Homo sapiens: one gene and its partners. The protein of the gene in region 3 purifies or fractionates together with the protein of the main gene of each other region. This does not show direct contact. Each region holds a gene or a part of one and is shown on either strand. Other genes may lie near its edges.

Region 1 (5,489 bases), on a different chromosome or scaffold from region 3:
CCCGGTCCCTGCTGGGACTTGTAGTTTGTTAACTAAAGAGCGCCTCAGCTTCAAAGGCGGGCATGGGAGAGTGACATGGGACCTCCCAATCCGCCATCGCACCCTGCTCGGGATCCACGAGCCCTTGTTCTTTGGGGACACCACACATACCCCAACTGGAGGGCAAAAGGTCACAGACCTTAGCCCAGGATTCAGGGGTACCCCACATGCCAAGACTTCACCTTCATAGAGGCGATCCTCGAATTTCTTTGGCTGTCAAGAATCCCAGGAAAGACGTTCAGAACGCAGGTCCTCAGCCCTATCCTTGACACAAAATGTCCTCCAAAGGAGGCTGATCCTTTGAGAACAGACAAGCCTGGCTCTGGCACTGGCCCACAGTCCTGCCCTCTTAGCCCGATCTAAGGCTGCCCAGCCCTTCAGGACATCCCATCAGCAAGGCCCTTGCAGGACATGGGCCACCTCCCCACTCATCCTTCCCTGACCCTCCCTGAGGTGGTCGCATGTTCTTCCAGCTCCAGGTTGTCCTCAAAGCCCTGGCCCAGCTCACAACCTCACCAGCTTCATCTCCTGCCCCTCAAAGACCTCAAGCCCCATGAAAGCAACGATGGGAACTAGCTGATGGCTGTAGCGTAACTGGCTGATGGCTGTCAAGTAACTTCTAGAATGAATGCTAGACCTTGACCCTGAATCCCTGCATTCTAAACTCTGTCCCCGGCCAATTCCAACTCCAGACTCCCACCATATTAACCTTCTCCCTTTACTCCACTCCTGCTGGGCTCGGGGTGAAACCAGAACAGACCCACCGGGACAGCCCAGGCAGCACCCAGAGACAGGCGGGTCCAGGCCCCTGTCCAGGGAAACAGGCTGGCTCCACGGAGCACCTCGACTCTGTCAACCCCAAGAAATGAGGGGGTCAGCAGGCCAAGTGGTTAAATAATTAATAAGATTACCAACAGCGTGTTAATTACAAAGAACAGTGAGGAGCTAGAGGTGGTGAATTTTCCAAACAGGGAACCAGGATCCACAGCCCCAAGGCCCAGGGGTCCGGCCACCCAGGCGGGGCAGCTCCGTAATAAATAATGGAGTTGGGGGCAGGGGGTCAGGGCTGCTCCTGCTTCTTCTTGACTGAAATCCGCTTCTTTCTCGCTGCCAGCATCTCATAGAAGGGGTCCACACTCACAGCCGCCCTGCAGAAGGGGAGGGGTCCCAGGATGAGGGCCAAGGAGTCCAGGCCTCCAGCCCCTCCTCCCTCATACCCAGGAGGAGTCTCAGACCCCCGGCCCCTCCTCCCTCAGACCCAGGAGTCCAGGCCCCCGGCCCCTCCTCCCTCAGACCCAGCAGTCCAGGCCCCCGGCCCCTCCTCCCTCAGACCCAGGAGTCCAGGCCCCCGGCCCCTCCTCCCTCACACCCAGGAGTCCAGGCCCCCGGCCCCTCCTCCGTCAGACCCAGGAGTCCAGGCCCCCGGCCCCTCCTCCGTCAGACCCAGGGGTCCAGGCCCCCGGCCCCTCCTCCGTCAGACCCAGGTGTCCAGGCCCCTGCCCCTCCTCCGTCAGACCCAGGAGTCCAGGCCCCAGCCCCTCCTCCGTCAGACCCAGGCGTCCAGGCCCCAGCCCCTCCTCCATCAGACCCAGGCATCCAGGCCCCTGCCCCTCCTCCATCAGACCCAGGAGTCCAGGCCCCAGCCCCTCCTCCATCAGGCCCAGGAGTCCAGGCTCACTGGATGGACTTGATCCACTCGTCCTTCTCCTCCTGCGTGGGGGCCGAGATCCGGTACACCATGTGGTTTCCCTCCACCACTCGGCCGTCCGCCTCAGTTTTGCAGGCTTTGATGAGCTGCCCCTTGTTGTTGGGGATGTAAAGTTCAAAGCAGTTCTGGGGACGAGAGAGGAAGGGCGCAGGTAAGAACCAGCCCTGGGCAGAGGAGGCCCCGCCCTGGCAGGAAGGTGTACAGAGAGGGTCTTACCGGTTTCCGGGGGTCGTCCACCTCTCGGATGCTCAGATTCTCCAGGGGGATGATTCCTCGGGGCTCCTTGTCCTGAAGAAGCAAGGTGGACAGAACTCAGACTTCCAAGTCCTCACCCCACCCCACCTCCCTCAGCCCCAGGAGTCCAGGCTCCCAGCCACTCCGCCCAGGACCCCAGAGCCCGGGTCGGGTCACGCTCACCGTGGTGTACTCAAAGTAGTAGAGGCAGTTGTCTGTGAGGATAAACCAGCGCCGCTTCCACGTCTTCACCCGGCCCCCTGAAAGGGAAGGGGTGGGAGGGGGCCTGGGCTCAACAGGGGGACAGGGCCTCTGGGAGATGGGAGGGGCGTGAGAAGCAGAGCAAGAGCGGTAGAGGTGGGGCTCCTGGGGCCTAGACAAAGCCGCTGCGTTGGGGGAGACAGACAAGCAGGGCCAGGCATGTTGGGGCTCCAGGAATCGTCCACCCCCAGCTTGGGGCTCCACATTTTCTGAGTCTGTCAGTCCCAGCCCAGGAGCCTGAGCCCCCAGCCCCCTCCTCCTGTGGGCAGGAGGCCAGGGCGCCAGGGCGCCAGGGCAGCCCCCTCCCCTCGTCTAGTGATGGGAGACAAAGACAGGTCGTGTACCTACCTCCTGGGGCAGACAGCGAGAAAGCAGGCAGGACCAGGTGCAGGAGAAGGGAAGGCGGGAGAATGGAGCACCCCCAAGAGCCGCAGGCGACAGAAACAGGGTGGGCACAGGGAGGGGTGCGCAGGGGCAGGACAGAGAGGCAAACACAGGAGAGAGGGAAAGACGCAGAGAGGAGGGGAGGGAGAGAGAGGGAAGAAAACCAGTTACATCCACGAGGGTGGGGATGGCCGGGGCTCCTCCCTCCCAGAGAGGCCAAGGGCCATGAGCCCCGGGTGGCAGCCTTGAAAACCCCTTGCTTCGGTACAGGGCCCCAGCCTACCCCCTAGGGTCTGTCCTAGGCCAGGAGCATCCTCCCTTGACATGGTAAAAGTGCCTCTGCCCTGGAGGAGGCCCCCACAGGACAGAAGGCAAAACCCCCAGCCCTTGGTCTGAGGTGGGTGTGAGGGCCCATCTCAGCTCCTGCACAAACTGGCTGTGTGACCTCAGGGCACTCTCTTGGACTCTCTGGACTCCAGCCTGGAGACTCACTCGGGCCTACACCTTCCTGTGGCAAAATGACCTGCTGCTGGCTTCCTTGTGGGCCCAGGGTTAAACAATGACAGTAAGAATGGCTTTTATTAGGCATGGAGTAGCAACCACCATCACCAATCTCCACTCCTGTATTTCCATCTTTTAAGGAAGGGGTCCCTCTAACTGGCACAAAGGGAACAGAGGCCCTTTGGTCAGAGATGTCCCTGGGGCTGGGCAGCCTTAGGTGGGGCTCAGAACCAAACTGAGGCGTGAGCCTCTGGGAAATGGGAAAGTTACTGCTCACAGGAGCAGTTTTTGTTTTGTTTTGTTTTTTTGAGACTGTCTCGCTCTGTCGTCCAGGCTGGATTTGCAATGGTGTGATCTCGGCTCACTGCAAGCTCCACCTCCTGGGTTCAAGCAATTCTTGTGCCTCAGCCTCCCAAGTAGCTGGGATTACAGGTGCCTGCCACCACGCCCGGCTAATTTTTGTATTTTTAGTAGAGACGGGGTTTCACCATGTTGGCCAGGCTGGTCTCAAACTCCTGACCTCAAGTGATCTGCCTGCCTCAGCCTCCCAAAGTGCTGGGATTACAGGCCTGAGCCACCGTGCCTGGCCTGACAGCAGTTTTGAGGGAAGCAGTTCCTCGTGATGCTGGCGCCTTCCTGCTTCTCTTTCTGGCCCGCTCACTGCCAGGGGCACCTCGAGGACTCTCAATTTCCCCCAGCAGTCTGCCTCCCTTGGATCGAATGCAGGGATCTGGACTGGGGTGTTGGCTGGACAGTGATTTGCATGTTTTATTTTATAGAGACGGGGTCTCGCTCTGTTGCCCAGGCTGGACTGCAGTGGCGCAACCATGACTCACTGAAGCCTCGACCACTTGAGCTCAAACAATCCTCCCACATCACCATGCCTGGCTAATTTTTTTATTTTTTGTAGAGATGGGGGGTATCATTATATTGCCCAGGTTGGTCTCAAACTCCTGACCTCTAACAATCCTCCTGCCTTGTCCTCCCAAAGTGCTGAAATTACAGGGGTGGGCCCCTGTGCCCTGCCTGACTTGTGTATTTTACATTTACCAGGAAACCCTGGCATCTGTTGAGGTGGTGATGCCCTGGTTTAAGAGCACAGTTCCACATGGGGAGGCCCCCAAGACTCAGAGGCCAAAGCTGCCCTGTCCAACCTCCTTCCAAGAAGCCTGACCTTGACTCCCTTCACTGAGCTGAAAGCTTCCTGTGGGCTCTCCTGCTGCCGCGGGAAGCCTCCACTGCTGTGCTGGACTGTAACTGCCCAGATGTGTCTCTCTGGAGCAGCTGTGCACCGTGTCTCCATTATAAACCACATCTAACACGCAGGTGGCACCTACTGTTACCAGGCACGGCTCCAGGCCAGTAGCTCTCAACCTTGACTATGCATTGGGAGCACCCGAGGAGCTTAAACGATGACTGATGGCCCTTCTGCTCCTGAGAGCCTGACTTCAGGAGTCTATGGCCCAGCCACCGGAGTTTTCGAGTTGCCCAGGCAAATCTCATGTACAGCCAGGGCTGAGAACCACTCTAGTCCTTGTGCTAACCCCTCATCATGCTACGATCCTGTCTGATCCATGCTAACCGACCTTGAATGTGCCAGTGCCACGTGTTATGACGAAGACTCCCCCCTCCATCTCTGCTGGGTTTCCCGACTCATCTGCACCAGCCCTGGCTATTCCCTCCACAGCTGGAAGCCAGAATCTGGGACAGGTTTCCTGGCCTGTTTGGCTCTTTTCTGCCTGTGGGTGGTGTTTCGGGAAGGATGGCACCTGGATCAGCCAAGTGCTCTGGGCCTGATGCCTCGGAGTGCGGGGTCAGTCCTGCCTGGAACCCTGGGAGTTCTTGCCAAGGGGAATAGATTCCAGGGGTTTGGCTCCCTCGGGCTGGGTTAACGCAGTGGAAAGAAGCCTGAGTGAACTCTTCTCCCACGAAAGGACAATGTCAGCTGCCTCTCACTGCCTCCTCAGCCCAGCTCAGGGCCTGGCACAGAAGGGCTCCATCAACATTTGTGGGTCAAGAGAAGGGGTTGGGAAGTACTTACTACAGGCCAGGCCCAGCACACAGGCCTGATTTTATTTTCAGCCCCATTTTTTGGGTGTGGAAAACTGAGGTTCAGAGAGGTCGAATCATTTGCCTCAGTTCAGGCAGCAGGTGTGTGCGGAAGCTGAGTCCAGGGCCCAGGCCCACAAATGTCCTCCTGCGGAGGGACCAGCGGGGTCGGGAGGGCACGTACCCAGCTTCAGGAGCCAGCCCTCCCGGTCCGGGTTGAAGAAGGTGTGGGTCAGGTCATTCCCGTCATCCTCAGGAATCTTGAAGGGCTCATTTCGGATGCTGTCGTACAGGTTCTGAGGAGTAAAGGCTG
Region 2 (6,116 bases), on a different chromosome or scaffold from region 3:
CATGGTCGGGCCTCTGACATGGGGCTCCTGGCAGCTGTTCCTGGGGCCTCCGCTGCCTCGGGCATAGGGACCCAGTGGCTCCAGCTCAGCTGAGGATGACATTTCCAGGCCACAGCTCTGGCCCAACCTGCTGGGGCCTGGGCCTGGCCTCAAGCTGCCACCATCCACCCCCGGCCCCAAGCTGGCTCTCAGCTCCCTGCTCCCAGCCAGACAGGATTACTTGATCAACCCTTCCTGTATTGAGTTCAGGGGACATTTATATATTGGAGACAATCTACCTCCAATCCTTCAGTCCCCAGTTTGAAAGGAACTGGGTCTCTAAATGTCATTGCTTGTTACAGAGGGGTAGTGTGACACCAACCTCTACAATGCCAGGTAGTACAGCCATCCCTGGCTCATGTGGATGGGATGAGATTGTCCCACCCAGACCCCCACTACACAGACACAAAGTCTGAGAGGTCAGACACCCAGCAGCCTGGTGTGGGGCTGTGACTCTATGTCCATGGTCCACACTCCAGTCTCACCCTGAGCCCCGGCTCCTTGAGTGTGACCAAGCTCTTGATCACATCGTGCTGGTCACAGGACACGAGCCAGCACATGGGGATGGCTCCACACAGTCCCTCCTCTCAATGCTGGACACTGGTCTGGAGGCTGTGACAATGCTCCTGAGACGGAGGACAGCAAGAGAGATGGGGATTGGTGCTTCGGGGGTCAGCCCAGCGGCAGCTGCCTCAGGCCCCGGGAGCCAGGGCTCAAGGGGTGCAGAGCCTCTAACCCAACTGGGGACCATAGCCATGTTCCACCCACAGTGCTCAGCTACCCTTGCTGCTCATGCCCCTGGGTGCCTGGGTCTCCATCTTCACTCCCCAACAGGCCGACGCATCTTCACTGACCCCAGCCTCTTCTTCCAGGAGGGCTCCTTCTCTGGTTTGCTGAGAGTGCACTCAGGTCCTCCTCACTCCCTGGCAGTTCCCCGGTCTGGTTTTTAATTCCTTCAGACTCTTTGCTTCTGCCCAGAGAGCTCCCTAATCTCCAGGCTTGCTCACTGTGTGGAGCACCAGATCCATGAATCCACCTGCTCTGGGACAGCTTCACCTGGAGTTCCCATAGTCCCCTCATGTTCAGCACGACCCGGGTGGAACCCAGCATCTCACCCCAGATCTGTGACCCAGCAGTCCCCCAAGTCAGAGCTCCCCTCTGAGACTACCCCATCTGCTCATTCCCCCTCTGAAACCCTGTCCAAGGCAGCCCCTCTACACACCAAGGCCCACGGCCCAGCTCAGACCTTTCCTTTCTCCTTGGACCATCACAATCAAGTTACCCACCTCCAGCCACCCTCCACCTTCCATCCACCCCGAAGAGGGCTTGCCAGACACAAAGAAGACCCTCATCCTGAGCTTCATCCACCAACTCCTAACCTAGTGGACTAGCTTGGTGCCAGTGAACAATGGCTAATCTCCATTGACAAAAATCACGACTGGAGAGAATTCCCTCTCTCTCTCTCTCTCTCTCTCTCTCTTTGTGTGTACACACACATCTACATGTATATGTGAACCTGACATTTTTTTTTTTAATTTGGACAGCTGCTGCTATGAGCAGACAAATAGCAAATGCATGTTCAAATAAAACCTCAGAAACAACCGATGACACAGTTGATGAGGCACGTGTGAGCTCACAGTGGTGATTTTAGACCATGGTCACGTAGAGTGTCATGTTCATAAGACAGACTTAAGTGTATCCACATTTCCAGACATTTCACACGGAGCACTGGGACACTCCCGGGTTCTGCTACCATGACATGTTTAAGAACTTCTTACAGGCCGGGCAAAGCCCAACTCCTCTGCCCAGCACACTAGGGGCATTCGCCACTGCCCACTCCACTCGCATACCTCGAGGCTGCACTCACCAGTGAGTACTTTCAGCCTTTCTGAGGCTTCCTGCACAGCCCCCACCCCACCCTCATCTGCACCAGTAGCAGCAAGCCCCAGGCCCCCAGCACAAAGCCTTGCTGAGATACCCACTGAGAAGGGGCTAACTACTGTGTTTGGAGCAAAACATCTCTGGCTGCCCAAACTTGGTCTGGGGCCATCTCCCACCCTGGATGGGACCTCCAGGGGGAAGGCCCAATCTGATACCCTCCTCCAGGCCCCCTAGGGTCCAGCCCAGCCCACAGCGGGAAATCTGAGAGCCCCAGGGATTGCACCAAGGAGGGAGCAGGTGCAGGCTACACAGCCCCAGATCCTGGGAACCCAACCCGAGAGCACATGCCTGATCAGGATGGAAAATCCCACCCAAGGGCCACTGCACACACCATGGACACATTCTAACTGCTCTGGGTGGCCCATGCGCAAGGTAGTGACTGGTCCACGTCGGCCTCCGCCCTATCCCCACGTGGTGTGGGCCTCTGGCTAGTCACTGACCCGAGGAATCTAGACACGGCTCAAGGCGGGTTTCCACCTCTCTCCCTTCACGGTAAGGGATTTACCCCCTGCGATGGAGAGTTCCCAAAAGCCGCTGCTGATCGCGTCCCCCTCGACCCCCCTCCCCACCCATCCAGGGGCCTGAGTTCTCAATCTGAGTTAATCAATAACCAGAGCCGTCAGGCCTCAGTGAAGCGGCAACGCAGGGGAGCGTGAATGGAGGGTGGGGGTCAGGCAGGGGTGTCGACCATTCCAACATGCCCCGCGTGGCTCCAGGCAGTGCTGAACAGTCAGGGGCCGGACTTCGGCGCCCAAGCCGTTGATGTCATGGGACAGAGGAGAGAGGGAGACAGGACTCTGAGCAAACAGAGCCTGGCTCTAAAACAGGGCGGAGGACCAAGACAGGTGCAGCTGGCAGGCTCAGCGGTCCTCCCCCCGCCCTCTCCAACTCCGGAGGGGCGGCAGGACCCCCATCACCTAGTCCGAGCGGCCGGTGAAGGCCCCAACCCCGCAGACGCGAGCAGAGGCAGGCAGTCGGGGCGAAGGGGCGGCACCCGGTTCGGAGCCCCACTCCCTGGCGCCAGCGCACGCGCTCCCCCGGGCTCACCTGGCCGCGGCCGGACAGCGAGAAGGTGGCGTGGCTGGCGAAGCGTGCGCTGCCCAGGCGGGGCGCGCGGTCGGGAACCCCGGGCGCGGGCGGGGGGCTGGGCGTGCCGGGAGTGCCGGGCACCGGGGACATCCCGCTGGCCAAGCCCAGCGCCTCCACCTGGCGCGTCAGGCGCTCGAGCTGCGCCTGCAGCCGCTGGTTGTCCCGCTGCAGGTCGGCCACCGTGCGCGCCAGGGGGCCGGCCAGGCGCATCGCCTCTGCCACTCGCCGCTCCACGCCGCGCTGCAGCCCCCGCATGTCCTCGTGCAGCGCGCGCACCGCACCCTCCAGCGCCGCCTCGTAGCGGCCCAGCGCCTCGCGCACAGTGCGCGCCTCCTGGGCGTCGGGGGCCGGCTCCATGGCCCAGCAGAGCGCGCGGGTCGAGAGCGGGCCAGACGGGGGAGAAGATCCGAGCTCCGCAGCTCCGGGCCGCGACTGGCCGTCCGTGGCTGGCTTCGCTCGAGGGGCTGCCGGGGAGGCGGGCGCGGGGCGGGGCCTCGGGGGCGGAGCCGGGGACGACTCCGGGACACCCCCCTGCCCTGGAGCCCAGCGGGACGGTGCGGAGGGAGAGCTCGCCCAGCCTCTCCCCTCCCCGGCTCTTAACTGAGCCCTGCGACCCCGGAGGAGCGGCGTGCGGCCTGCGGGAGGGGCGGCGGGCCCACCCGAAGAAGGCCCTGGCCCCCCTGGACCGTAGAGAGCACACCCGGGCTGACGCGTTCGCTCGGGACTCTCACCCGCAAGGCCCAGGTTCCTCCGGGGGCGGAGACTCCCGGGCTAATGGGGACACCTACAGCTCCCACAGCTGCCGCCCCACTCCGCGGGGCCCTCCCTATGCAGCGGCCACGGCTCTCGCAGGCACACGCTCACCTGTGGGACCTTCGCCTGGAATTTCTTGTATCTGTTCTAAGACCTCAGGGAGGAGACAGGTGGTGAGGTCCCCTCCCTGACTCTGCGACTACGCGCTGTCCCCTCCCAGTCCTACTCTGTATAGCAAGATCTTCGTGCCCTTCCCACTAGTGGTCGGTAGAGGCTCCCGACCCACCAAGGGGCCTCCGTTAGGAGATCCTGGAGAGGCTAAGGGCAGACAGAGAAAGAAGGGTGTGCTGGAGCTGCATCTCCAAATCCTGGAATGGGCGGCTTTGCGACTAATCGCCCCCTCCCGCAATGAGAGTCTCAGTCACTGGCCTCTACCCGTAGGCCAGGGGTCTTACCCCTATTCCTTCTCAATGCTCTTTATGGCTGAACCCAGATAGTTCCCCCTTCCAAATGCACACCCCAAACCATCACCAGAAAAGGGAAGAAGGGAAACAGGTGTTGCTTTAGGACGATGGGATGATGGGCAAAGCTAACTCTAAGTTTTCGCTATATCATAAAGCTGATTTAAAATAAAAATGAGAACATATCCTCCTTTGTGCAAAAAACCTTTCCTAATTGGCCTTCTTTTTCCCAAGCCTGGCCTGCCTGAAAGAGGCCCAGAGGCTGGGCATGCATAGCCAGCTGACCTGCAGGAAGGAGAAGTCTGAAAGGCTTGTTCATATCATGTTCTGCTCCCAAGGTTGTTTGGAGCCCACAAACCCTCCTGGACTGGCCATCATTGCCCCAAAGGAACTGGAGCAGCCTGACAGATGCTAAATGCTGGTTCTCTCCCCCGCCCCCAGCCCCAAGGGGACAGGAAGGAACGCTGGGTTACCTAATCCAAGGAGCCTTCCAGCAATTATTTCATGAAAAAGGCAAATGCCAAAAGGTGTGCATGCTGCATATATGTGTGAGCATGTGTGTGCATTCCAGGTAGCCATCTGGACAGGGTGAGCCAAACTGCTCCCTGAATGCTTTCTCCAGGTGGAATCTTTAGTAGCAGCCTCCAGAGACGCTGCTGCTGCTCTTGCCGCAGACAGCACTCAAAGCCCCTCCAGGTCTCAGCACAAGAACCTGGAGTTCAAAAACCCTGGTCTCAGCCACAGAAGCCCAGTCCCTTCCCTTCTAAGATCCAAGGAAGGACCGTGTGGAGAAGCCTTGAGAGGGACTGGACAGGCTGGTCTCTAGGCTTCTCTCCATCCTCCGGGAGAAGGCAGGCTGGCTGGGCCATTGGTGGGAAGCCTGGCAGGGAGGAGGAGGTGACAGATCGTAGAGCCTGTGGCTGCCTGGGATCCATCCACACTCTCCAGCCTCAGGCTAGTTATCTGGTCTCTCCTGAGCCACATGGGAATCTCTAGGAGGAACTTCTCGGGGACGGGGCATGGCTGCTTCTGGGGCCGAAGGCGGGACTCTGTCAAGGGCAGAGATGGGGGCTCACTGTGGGTTCTGGGAAGGCAGATGGTACAAGACCATCCCCCTTGGCTCCTTTTTCTCAGCAGTCAGATCTCCGAGTCAGTAGCTGGAGATGCACCCAGGAGAGGAGAGAAGAGCCAGGAGCATGAGGAAGAGAGTGATTCTGGGGTGGGAAGGGGGCGGGATGGAGGGTCAGCACCACCCTCCGACCTGGCTCCATGACAGATGGACCGAGGCTGCAGCTCTGTTCCCAGGCCCAGGGGCTCCTGTGAGCCTTCCCTGCAGGCCCCTCCCCCACTCTCCTTTAGCTCCACTCCTGCCCAGTACCAGGCTGCGAGGGAGGTGAGGGCCCGTGAACCTGGCTGGACTCCCTGCACATTCACCAGCCCTGATGTCAGCAAGCAAGTGGAGGCCAACCTCCCACCAAGGCCTGGGGGCCCTGGCGCCTGCCCTTCCCACTCCAGTCTCCTGGCTCTGCCCCTACTGCTGCCCACCGTCGTCCTGCTCTGCTCTGAGTCTAGGCTGGATGCAGGATGCAGGACAAGCTTTCCCCAGCCCCCCTGCCAATGTCTCACAAAATCAAATCCACAGTTAGGGAAGTTACCATCTTTGGGCCTGAGGCGGGGAAACTGAGGCCCTAAGAGGGGCAGGGACTGGCCCAAGGCCACACAGCAAGGCATGCGGAGACAGTACTGGAACCTGGGCCCTGCCCCCACACCCAAGGTGCAGTACCCTCTTTCCTGCACGCCAGTCCCAGCTCACCTCCCAGTACAGCAGTCAGG
Region 3 (5,489 bases):
AGCTCTCTGATCACCAACAAGTAGCCAAGCAGCAAGCTAAGCTGCCTAATGGCCCTGGGTATGTAGTTAGAGCAGTGGAGTCAGTTTATGCCAAGACTACTTCTCTCTTCTGTTCAAAATTTTCTCCCTGGAAGGTTATTTATTTTATTTGTAAAATCCAGGGTATTTTCCAAAGCCCCAGACAAAAGAGCCAACACATATCCAGTATCATCTGATGGAAAACTTTTTTCAGTTTGAGATGTGCCTGTGGCCCTTCAGGATTCACTGACACACTGGCATGGCCCATCAAGCCATCCACCTGTCTGGCTGTGAATCCACATACTTCCCACCAAGAAAAGCAGAAGTAAACACACATCTACAGTTCTCTGTTCTCTTTCCACTAGAAACACTATCTCCTACCTACCACTACTCCTCCCAGCCCTGCTGCTGCTCAGCAAACACTGGCAAAAGTGGGAGCACTCAGGGCAATGAAACATACCCAAAGATGTCTTCGAATGTATGAAAGTGGAAAAATACCCTGGTTGATAGGGCCATGGACATAGACCCTACAGAAGCCTCTCTGTACTCTGAGGACCTGCTCTTCTACCAGCAAGCTTGATTCTGACTTCTTAGGAGGAAAATGGGGTAGAGCCTCTGGGCAAAAATGAGAAGCATTCCTTTTTTCCCTGTGGTCTCCTCACAGACAGGAGCATCCATTTGCTGTCCCCATCTTGTCCCTATATCTTGGCAATGCCCATGAAACCAAGTCCAAACTCCTTAGCATGGCAAACAATGTTTTACGGGAAAGCAGCTTCTTAATTTTTCTTAGCTTCGATTTCATCATGTATAAAAGAGGTATTAAATAAGACTACTTCATAGGGTGGAGATAATTAAATGAGGGCCTAGACAAACTTAACAGGGTGCTGGGCACAGGATAGGTGCCCAGTAATTGTGTGTTAGCATATAGATTATGATTTGCTCCTTGCCGATTCCTCCAGCTTCCTGTGTCACCAGACCATGCCCATCTTTCCCCGCCCCAGGCAGAACTCCAGCAACATTTAATTACGGTTTTTAAAGGTACTTTGCTCTCTCTCTTCCCCCTCTGGACTTTTGCATATTAGCTTTTCTGCTTGAAATGCCTCCTGTCCTCCTTCCCTAACAATTCCCATATCCTGGCTAACATCTGTTTTTTTAGGACTCAGGTTAGGAGTCATTTCTTCTCCACCTCAAGCTGGATTAGATGTTTCCATAGCAACCAGTGCTTATCAGTATCAGTGCACTTATCTCTCTATAATTGGCTACTTATATATCTGTATCCTTTATAAGGTTTCAAGGCCCTGAAGAGCCAGAACTGTGCCCTATTCTCAGAATTATATCTCAAATGTTGGAAAAGTGCTTCACATATAGAAAACTACGGTCAACATACTCCCCCCACCCCCCCATTTTTGTGAAATGCTTACATTCTCTCTTGCATTGTTTAAAAACTGGCTGGGCATATTCCTGAGAAGCTAGAGATTCCTACCCACAACTCTGGGATAACTTACAAGGGACACAGACATCTGCACCTTTCTAGGACAGTTCCCACTCCATAACCCTACCTCAAGCTCATGCAATGGGTGGCTGGATTCCCTGAGAGAGGACAAAGAAAAGGCTGAAAGATGCTCATCAGGATTAAAAGGGACTTTGCATCCTTCCTTTGAGAGATAGGGCCTGGCAAACACCCAAGACCTGTGGAGAAGTGCTCCTAGCTGCTCACCTGGTAGATATGGTTGAGTTTGAAGTGTTTGAGGAGTAGCAGAAGCAGGGTAGAGATACTCTTTACAATAATCTCCTTGTGCCTGTTCACATCGATGCCCAGCTTCATGCTCTGGAGAACAGTGATGCTACAATGGGGAGAGAAGGTATTAGTGCAGAGAGTGGCCTTAAAGGGAGCCCTGTAGGGATCCAGGTATTTGGGTCTGATACAATATACACAAGAGAGCCAGAACTTGGGAAACTTGAACTTCTGTGCCAGGGAAACCTCCAGAGTTCCCACTTATGAGCCTATCTGAAGAAATGCTCCACTGATCTCTTTGTTTCCGTCTCTCTTTTGGCAAGCTCATCCCTTGGCAATGTTCACCCAAATACCTGGGCAGCCAGTCGCTGGCACTGGTGTCACCCTCCAGATCCAGAGTTCTGAGCTAAAAAGAGCCAAGCAGAAAGCCCTGTACGGGAAAGGGGGTACTGGTGGGCAGAGACGGGGAGATCTCTTTGGAGACAATCTCTGTAAGTGTTAACAAGGTGAGTGGGGACTAGAGAGAGCCTGCAGATAAGACAGCTAGTATCCAGCAGCTGCCCCCGTTGAAGCACTCACGGCATCTCCTCAGGTAGGACATCTGCCAGGATATTGATAGAGTCTGTCTTAGCCTTAGAGGTGGGAGCTGCAGCCAGCAGAATCTTAAGCAGAGCGATCTGAGAAGTAGAAAATAAAGAAATTTACCACTGTCAAACCCACTCAGCAAGGAAGTGATTCTTCCACACCCTAACCGCCCTATAAAAAGTGTTTTAAAGCCATTCTGTAAGTTCTTCCCTCAATGACCATATCTCCCCAGCATCCAGAAAAGCAAACAGGTGCCCAGTCCTGACAGGCCTGCCTGTGAGGCTAGGGAGAAAGCCAGAGGGAGTGCATTGGCTGTTATGCTTCAAGACTGTTCTTTCCAGGGCCTGGCATGGTGGCTGATGTCTGTAATCCCAGCACTTTTGGAGGCCGAGACAGGCAGATCACTTGAGGTTGGAAGTTCAAGATCAGCCTGGCCAACATGGTAAAACTCCATCTCTACTAAAAATACAAAAACTAGCTGGCGTGGTGGCATGTGCCTGTAATCCCAGCTATTCGGGAGGCTGAGGCAGGAGAATCACTTGAACCTGGGAGGTGGAGGTTGCAGTGGGCCAAGATCGTGCCACTGCACTCCAGCCTGGGCGACAGAGTGAGACTCCACTTCAAAAAAAAAAAAAAGACTGTTCTTTTCAAAGGGGAAGATGGAAGGAACAGAGTGGGAGGGACAGTGTGTAGAAATAAGGTGGGCGGCATAAACCCAACTTCTCCCACTCTTTTCTTTCCTCTAACCTGAACCATTGGCATCTTCCCCACTCCCAGCCTGAGGCTATCTAGGACATGACAGACCACAGCAGATCTCAGAGGGACTACAGTACTTATCTCGGAGGAGGGTCCCCAGTGTATCCTGTAGAGACCCCAACTTATTCCCCACCCTTCCCAAAGAAGGACTAGGGAGAACAGCACCATCAGAGGAGCACTGAGGAAAGCTCAGAATTTGCATGTGTCAGAGAATGCCTTGCCAAAGGGGCAAAGGCTCAGGAAACAAGCTCAAGTGTTGGACAGGTCCACTTGAAATGGTTTTTAGCTGTCTGTTCCTTGCAGCAGAGAAGGGCAGCTCTGGCCTAGCCATCTCCTTACCATATACTGCGGAAGGCTGTACAGCATTCCCTGGTAGAGGATTTCACATGGCGTCTCTGGTACCACCTCTTCCCCCTATGGCAAGAAATACATGGTTTGGCAATGCCACTTTCCAGGTGACCAAAGGCTTTTTTTTCTTGGTTGTGAGGGGTGACCTGAAAAGAGCACTAAGCTGGGAGTCAGATCTAGGTTTCTACCCTAGCTGTGTTAATGACTCACTGTGTGACCTTGGTTAAGTCACATTCCTTTTCTGAGTCCTAGTTTTCTCTTTAATAGGACCATCAGGTTGGCCTGGATGACCTTTCAGTACCTGGGATACTGGAACAGATGCTACAGAAGCACTTCCTATGGTGTGGATCTGAGGCTGAAAACTCTAGAACGTTCTGTAAGCCTGGAAGGAGAGGTAGGTGGCTCAATAGTGTGGGTTTAAAAGGAAGTTGGGTAACCTATGGACTGGAGAAACAGGAAGGAATATTAGCAAAGAAGCTTTTAAGTGGATGGAAATGATTTTCTTCCCCTCTCCATTAGCCCCTACATCACTTTCTCCTTTCTGACCAGCTCCCTCATATACAACTATCTCTGTCCTGTTGATGACATTAACTAAGCCTTTTATCAGAGTGGGGAGGCTGGGGTCTCAGGGACCCAATAAGCTGCTCAGGCCACTGTCATCTTTGACCAATGCAGTTCCCTTCCTCCTACAAGGTCCCTCTATTACAGGGCAAGGGGCCACTGCCATGAGACCCTGAGGCAGGGAAGAATAACCCGCCTCCCTCTGTCCCACACAACTAATCTGCTGCTTAAATGGACGTAAGTCCTAAATGGACATTCAACAGAGCCTGGCAATCCTGGCATGTTTGCCTTCCTGCTCTCCAAAAGGCTGATTTCATACCATCTTCTCTCTCCTCAAACCAACTCCTTTGCCCACCATCCCTAAACAGTTGCTGACCCTGCCTCACGCTTCATGGAGAAAACAGAAGCAATCAGACAGGCACACACTCATCTTCTCAACACCAAATCTACCAAGAGTCTTCTTCCTTCCTTCTTGACATGAAGGATGAACCGCCTGTGCTTCTAACAAAGGCCAGTCTCCTACTTGTGCTCAGGATCCCACACCCATTTGCTTTGTTGAATGCCTCAGTCCTGCAATTATCCCCTCTCTTGGATCACTTATTTTAGGAAACAAAAAATGCTCTAGTATCTCTCAGCTATAAAACATCCTCCCCTTGACCTCACATTTTCCTTCAGCTACCATCCACTTTCTCTCCTCTTCACAAAACTTTTATATCATCTACCTCCTTTTTTGACATTCCCTTCAATACACTCCAATTAGGCTTTCAGTCCCACTACTTCACTTAGAGTTGTTCTTATCAAGGTCACTATCTTCATGTTGCCAAATCCAATGGGCACCTTGGTTCTTACCATAATGCCACTTATTAGTAGCATTTTACCCAGCAGATCACTCCTTTTTTCTTGAAAGACTTTCTTAGCTTTTATGATGATATCATAATCTCCTGGATTTCCAGCCACTTCACTGTCTTTCATATTCTTCTGGCTCCTTTCCTGACACATCCCCCCCTCAACATACTGGTGTGCCCCAGGGCTTTGTCCTGCCTTCCATTCTCTTCTTTGTCTCTACTCCCTCCCTGGGTTATCTCAGCCAGTTCTACGGCCTTTAACACTGCCTATAAGTGTTACAAACAACTCCCGAATTTATTTCTCAAAGTCAGCCCTCTCTGTAGAATTCTAGACTTTATTTCCAATTGCCTGCAGCTCCACATGGGTATCTAATGGGCATCTAAAACTTAGTATGACCAAAACAGAACTCTTGATATTCCCCCCACATCCTGGCAAATGGTACTTATTCTTGATTCCTTTCTTTGCCTCTCTATCCACATCCAAATGCACTGCAAGTCTTGTCAGCTACATCTCCAAATCCAGGTCGGCATCATCTCTCACCTTGACTATTTCAAGGGTTTTCTAACTAATCTCCGTAGAGTGCGTCTATGCTTTTCTGGTCCAATCTTTACACAGAAGCTAATGTTTTTAGAAACATAAA
Region 4 (5,489 bases), on a different chromosome or scaffold from region 3:
GAGCCACTGCCCCTGGCCTTTTTTTTTTTTTTTTTTTTTTTTTCATTTTTAAAGAGACAGGACACTATTATAACACTAAAGGTCGATAGATTTTTTTTTTAATGTTGAAGTTTGTGTTAAGAAAAATTTAGAAAACACAAAAGGAAAGCAAAGCTACTTTGTAAGCTTATACAAAAGCATAATCCAAAGTAGTTCTCAAAAGTATGTGAATATATATCATGTTAATGCCACTTATGGAAATAATTTTATATTTTGTCATAAACAGGTTAAGATTTTTGCCATCAATATAAAAGGTCAGGAGTAAAATGAAGAGCGGCAAGAGTGTGCCAGACTTCCAGGAAGAAGGCTGAGGGAGTAACAACTCCTAGGAAGAAACTCACTTCTATTCACTGCCAACATCTGAGAGTTTGTAGTATTCCCTGCAACACTGTTAGGGAGTTAGAACATTTATAGTGGGTGCTAGTCTTAGCTTCATTGTACTTATCAGGAAAAAAAAAAGGCACAGAGGATAGTCAACTTACCCAAGTTGAGAGAGCTAATAGATTAAACCCGTAGAGTTACCAGTAGAACTGGTAGATTAAAATGCCACAGAAACCCAAGCCATCAAAATCTAACTTCTGATTACAGCACACGGTTACACTAAATCTTACCTTCAATTATTACCAGCTGTATGTCTAGAGGGTATTTTTATATCAACCATAAAATACAGATTTGATCATGTCAGTCCTATGTGAATCAATCGATCTTTACAGTCTTCCTCAACACTCTGGCACGGCAATATAGCCATTCAAGTACCCTGTGCCACGTATTTTCACACTTTCACACACATACTGCTCCCTTACCTAAAACATCCTTCTTCCCATTCTTTCTAGTAAGTTCTTAGGCATCCATCAAAGCCCACATAAAATATCCTCTTTTACCTCTGCCACTATTGAAGGCACTTGGTAGCTGCCTTCCCATACATATGACATTATTATGACTATCTCTGTAAGTTTTTGTCTCTGCCGAAACCTACTCTAACACTTTACTGTGTGATGCTTAAAGATAAGGTGCGATGTGCAACTGAAGCCATAACCATGAACGTGAACATTTTGTGCTGTGACTTTAAATCCATTAGAATGTCTTCAACGCAAATGAATTTGTACCCATGCATGTTATATGGCATCATGCAATGGCCCTTTGGAAATAGTGGTTTACTAAGTTATATAGATGTAAGTGTTGAAACTTATATATCAAATTCATTACATAACATTATGAAAAAAAGCTATTGCGCTCACAGTGGTATTACAAGTTTCTCAATCTAATTTTTATTTGAAACCCTGAATTTTATCACTGACAAAAAATATAGTCAGTTGTTTTCTTTGGTTCATTTGAGAGAATTCCTGCCAGTAGCTAGACCCAAATAACCAGTTTGTCAATGAGTCACTCTTTTTTTTTTTTGCATTCCAATCTTGGGTTTATTCAACACAATTCTTCCACTCTACACAACAAAGTACAAACACAATGTCATCTAAAATGCTACAAAGGTATAAAACTCAAAGAGAAATTTTATAGTACTGACTGTACAATAAGAAAAAAAAAGAAAAGCAATGTACATGTTGCCAAGATAACCTGAAAGACCACCATGAAGGACAGGCACAACCATGGCTGCGGGATGACCCCACAGAGCTGGCTCTCAACTCACTCGCCAATTTCAGAGTAGGGTGGTGGGGTGGTGTGTGTGCATAGGTGCACGGACAGACAGAACCATGCACAGCAACTACCATGGGTGAGAGGATCTTTGGGGGTGTGTGACCCTTGAAGTCGGAAGAGGCCTCGAGAGGCCGGGCCTAACAGGGTTGGCAGCTGCACTAAACCCTGGGGCAGCTCCCTTTCCAAAAGGACACTGCCCAGCGACAGCAAGGGCACGGCCTGGCCACCATCCCAGGTCATCAGGGAAGGGAAAAGTGTGCTCCCAGGTAGGCAGGGTCAAAGCACCCCCAAGAGTCTTACTTGTCCCTGGTGGCTCTGCCACTGAACTGACTCTTAGAAACTGGAAATGGGTGAGCTTTCTAGCCAGAAAACCAGAGGGAATCTTGACAGGCACACAGTCAATGAGTCACTCTTTCTAAAAGTGGGGAAAAGTTCATCTCAAAATTCAATCATACAAGGGCTTTTTTTTCCCTTGAGACAAACCACAGTACTTCAGTATGAGAAATGCTTTCTATGTATTTCCTATTTCATCACAGAATGTTAAAGAGATGAACTCAATGGTAGACATCTAATACATGTATACTCCAACACTGACATTTTTCAGGCACAGGGTCTTGCTATGTCGTTTAGGATGAACTTGAACTCCTGGGCTCGAGCAATGCTCCCACCTCAACATCCCGAGTAGCCACCATGCCTGGCTCCATCACAAACATTTTTAAATACATTTGCATGTTACTGCTGTGAATAATGCAATGACTGCTGCTACCCTGGTGGCACTATCTTGATTCCTGCCAAGGTGACAACAGTATTATCCACTATTTACTTTGTGCCATTGGTGCAAAAATAACATTTTATTATCACAAATAGTTTTGACCTTAAGGGTCCCTGACCCAAGGTCAAAACTGTTTACCCCAGTTATTTTAGGAAAATAAATAAGGCAGAAGGAAAAAAAAAATCATTCCTTTGTTGTTCAAAGTTATTTAAGAATTATGTTTACTTCCATATGCATTAGACAGTATGAAATGGAATCATTCTACACTATTGTTATTTGCCCACTTCATAACAAATTCAACAAATCAATACCAAAGTATTATAGTATATGGATAGTTTATATTTACCTAATCTTCCCTATTGCTGGATATGTTGCCAATTTTTCATTTGATAAACAATCTGTAATACACATATTTCTGTACCTGTCCAAAATCCCTTTAATAAACAGCTAGAAGTGAAATTGCTAACTTAAGGGTATAAATGTGTACTTCACATAGTACCTGACAATGTCACCTATTAAGAAATCTTAGAATATGCTTTCTAAGTTAACATTTTTCAAATGTTAACATTAAACATTTTTCAAACTGCTTTCTACAAAAGTTTTACCAATTAACACATCAGTAAGGGTTCTTATACCCTAACCATCATTGGTTATTACCATTCTTTAACCTTTAAAAAAAATCTTTGCTGGTTAAATTGGCATTTCTTTAGTTACTATTAAATCTTGCAGACACAAGATTTAATAATAACTAAAGATAAAAATGTGTTGATCAAAGGTATGCCTTGAAAGACCTTATTCAGTCTGCCATAAAAATAAATTTTAAAATATATAAAGAAATTAAGTGTTCTGGTTAGCTGATTTAAGGAGGTAGTACCTAAAAAACTAAAACCGTTATAATACTTTAAAAGTACTAAAATAGTTATATCTCAAGTAATTTTTTACCCCTGTTTGAGATAAATTATTGGAGGTAGTTCCTCAAATACTCACTTGCTGATCTTCACCTAAGTTATAAATATCACCCATGCATTTTTTTTTTCTTTTTCATTGTCTATGTTCTCCAATTAGCTTAAAAAAAAAAAAAGATACCAGAAGAGTCTTGGGTTATGTTACATGACCACTATTATGTTATCTTTTTTTAAAAAAAAAAAAAAACATGACTAATAACACAAATGAAAAGTTAGGCTTGTTTTTCGAAAAAGAGACAGTCTCACTATGTTGCCCAGCCTGAAAAAATTAGGTGTTTTTACATGCCAAGGTATTTATAGAATTAATATTTATGGAGCATCTAGTATGGGGCAGATACTCTGCCCTCGTGGAACTTAACATGCTAGTGCAAGAGACAGACAATAAGCAAGAAAACAACAAGAGTTTCTAATAAAGATGGCACCAATTTAAATTGAATGATAAATCCAAAGAGTTTAAAAGAAGTTATAAATTACAAATACCAAGTAACATTTTATAGGAAACTGAGAGGTATTAGAAAAGAAAGAACATTTTTGGACATCTACAATGTAGCTGCCTTGTAGATACACCAGTATGTACGTAGCATAGTCTAGTGGTTGTAGTAGGGTGATTTAGTTTGAATTCACTTTACTGCAAATTTGTATGATCAAATCACAGGGAACAACAGCCCTTTAAAGAGACAGTACTAAAAGAGGTCAAAGAAAAGATAATCTACTTGTATTTGAAGTGATAAAGTTTGCTTTCTTCATTACAATGCAAACTACACAGCTGCTGACAAATAAAATGGCTTCAAGTCATGTCTGTGGCTGATATAGCACAGACTGGCTCACTCACCTCTATTCCAACCCCTTCCCCATGAAAGTTCACTGCATTTCCCATACTACTCTTTAGCTCAGGCTCCACATGGGACCTATCTTCTTCCAAGCAGCTGCAATACTTTGAAATCTCAGAGGCAGAAGAGATACCACATGGAGGCTGTGCTTCCACGATCTCCATCAATGAGCACAGCTGTAGAGGCATCTGATGGTTCTGCAGCAGCTGTAGCTGAGATCCCAGCACCTGGTTCTTAGCTTCACGGGGGCTGAGAGGCAAAGAGTAGGGCATCCATTTACCTGGCCCAGATTATACCAAAGATAATGTGGTCCTAGAGCCACTCACTGTGGCAGCAGTTCTCGAATTCCCAGCTCCCTGATGGTGGCAGAGACAAAATCCACTGTGAGCCACACAACTGTCATTCCTGGAAGCTCAGCCTGCTCCCTCAACCCTTCCAAGGATATAATGACCACCTCTTTTTACTTTATTAAGCCTTTCTGTTTGAACCATACATAAGAAATAAACTCTTAACAGGTGTTTAAAATCAGATGTCTAACAAAACTGTTGATGTTGCCATGGAACACCTGAGGTCAAGTATTATTTTCGTTAAGTAAAATAGTTACATAAGAGGTGTATTTTTTTGGTGAAGAGGCACAAAATAACAGTATAGATAAGACTACCTGCAAAAGTCATGGAAATTATCTCTAGAAATCTACAATTATGGGCTTGTCTCAAATCCGCTTTGTTTTTTTTTTTGGAGATAGAGTCTCACTCTGTCACTCAGGCTGCAATGCAGTGGCGCAATCTCGGCTCACTGCAACCTCCGCCTCCTGTGTTCAAGCAATTCTCCTGACTCAGCCTCCTGAGTAGCTGGGATTACAGGTGTGTGCCACCATGCCTCCAGCTAATTTTTGTATTTTTAGTAGAGATGGGGTATACCCATGTTGTCCAGGCTGGTCTCGAACCCCTGACCTAAGCGATCTGCCCACCTCGGCCTCCCAAAGTGCTGGAATTACAGGTGTAAGCCACTGTGCCCAGCCCCTCAAACCCCCTTTGTAATGGACTAATGTAGTATAAACATTGTAAACAAATATAAATTAAAATATTCTTACTTGACTGCAGCAAATACATTATCTCCATTTGGAACAATTATACAATTTTTCTTTGCTTCATTTATACCAACATATACAGGAAATTCATCAGGAGAATCCCTGTGTAAGCAAAAGACATTAAAAATTTAGCTGCCCAT

The links.
Region 1: the proteins of STRIP2 (region 3) and CYTH2 purify together in Homo sapiens (affinity purification with mass spectrometry; one large-scale study listed by BioGRID and IntAct). This does not show direct contact.
Region 2: the proteins of STRIP2 (region 3) and SMTNL2 purify together in Homo sapiens (co-immunoprecipitation; one large-scale study listed by IntAct). This does not show direct contact.
Region 4: the proteins of STRIP2 (region 3) and HPF1 purify together in Homo sapiens (co-immunoprecipitation; one large-scale study listed by IntAct). This does not show direct contact.

Annotation. Positions count from the first base shown.
Region 1 is NC_000019.10:48,474,821-48,480,309, reverse strand, and holds part of CYTH2 (cytohesin-2), read right to left. Parts: intron 5,473-5,489; coding exon 5,361-5,472; intron 2,594-5,360; coding exon of another isoform or gene 2,591-2,593; intron 2,242-2,590; coding exon 2,165-2,241; intron 2,036-2,164; coding exon 1,964-2,035; intron 1,873-1,963; coding exon 1,718-1,872; intron 1,188-1,717; coding exon 1,100-1,187; 3' UTR 1-1,099. UniProt on the Homo sapiens protein: Acts as a guanine-nucleotide exchange factor (GEF). Promotes guanine-nucleotide exchange on ARF1, ARF3 and ARF6. Activates ARF factors through replacement of GDP with GTP.
Region 2 is NC_000017.11:4,581,916-4,588,031, reverse strand, and holds the start of SMTNL2 (smoothelin-like protein 2), read right to left. Parts: upstream 3,504-6,116; 5' UTR 3,427-3,503; coding exon 3,028-3,426; intron 1-3,027.
Region 3 is NC_000007.14:129,460,985-129,466,473, reverse strand, and holds part of STRIP2 (striatin-interacting protein 2), read right to left. Parts: intron 3,887-5,489; exon of another isoform or gene 3,825-3,886; coding exon of another isoform or gene 3,744-3,824; intron 3,509-3,743; coding exon 3,434-3,508; intron 2,431-3,433; coding exon 2,333-2,430; intron 1,863-2,332; coding exon 1,736-1,862; intron 1-1,735. UniProt on the Homo sapiens protein: Plays a role in the regulation of cell morphology and cytoskeletal organization. Required in the control of cell shape. Calmodulin-binding scaffolding protein which is the center of the striatin-interacting phosphatase and kinase (STRIPAK) complexes.
Region 4 is NC_000004.12:169,743,392-169,748,880, forward strand, and holds part of HPF1 (histone PARylation factor 1), read right to left. Parts: intron 5,452-5,489; coding exon 5,353-5,451; intron 1-5,352. UniProt on the Homo sapiens protein: Cofactor for serine ADP-ribosylation that confers serine specificity on PARP1 and PARP2 and plays a key role in DNA damage response.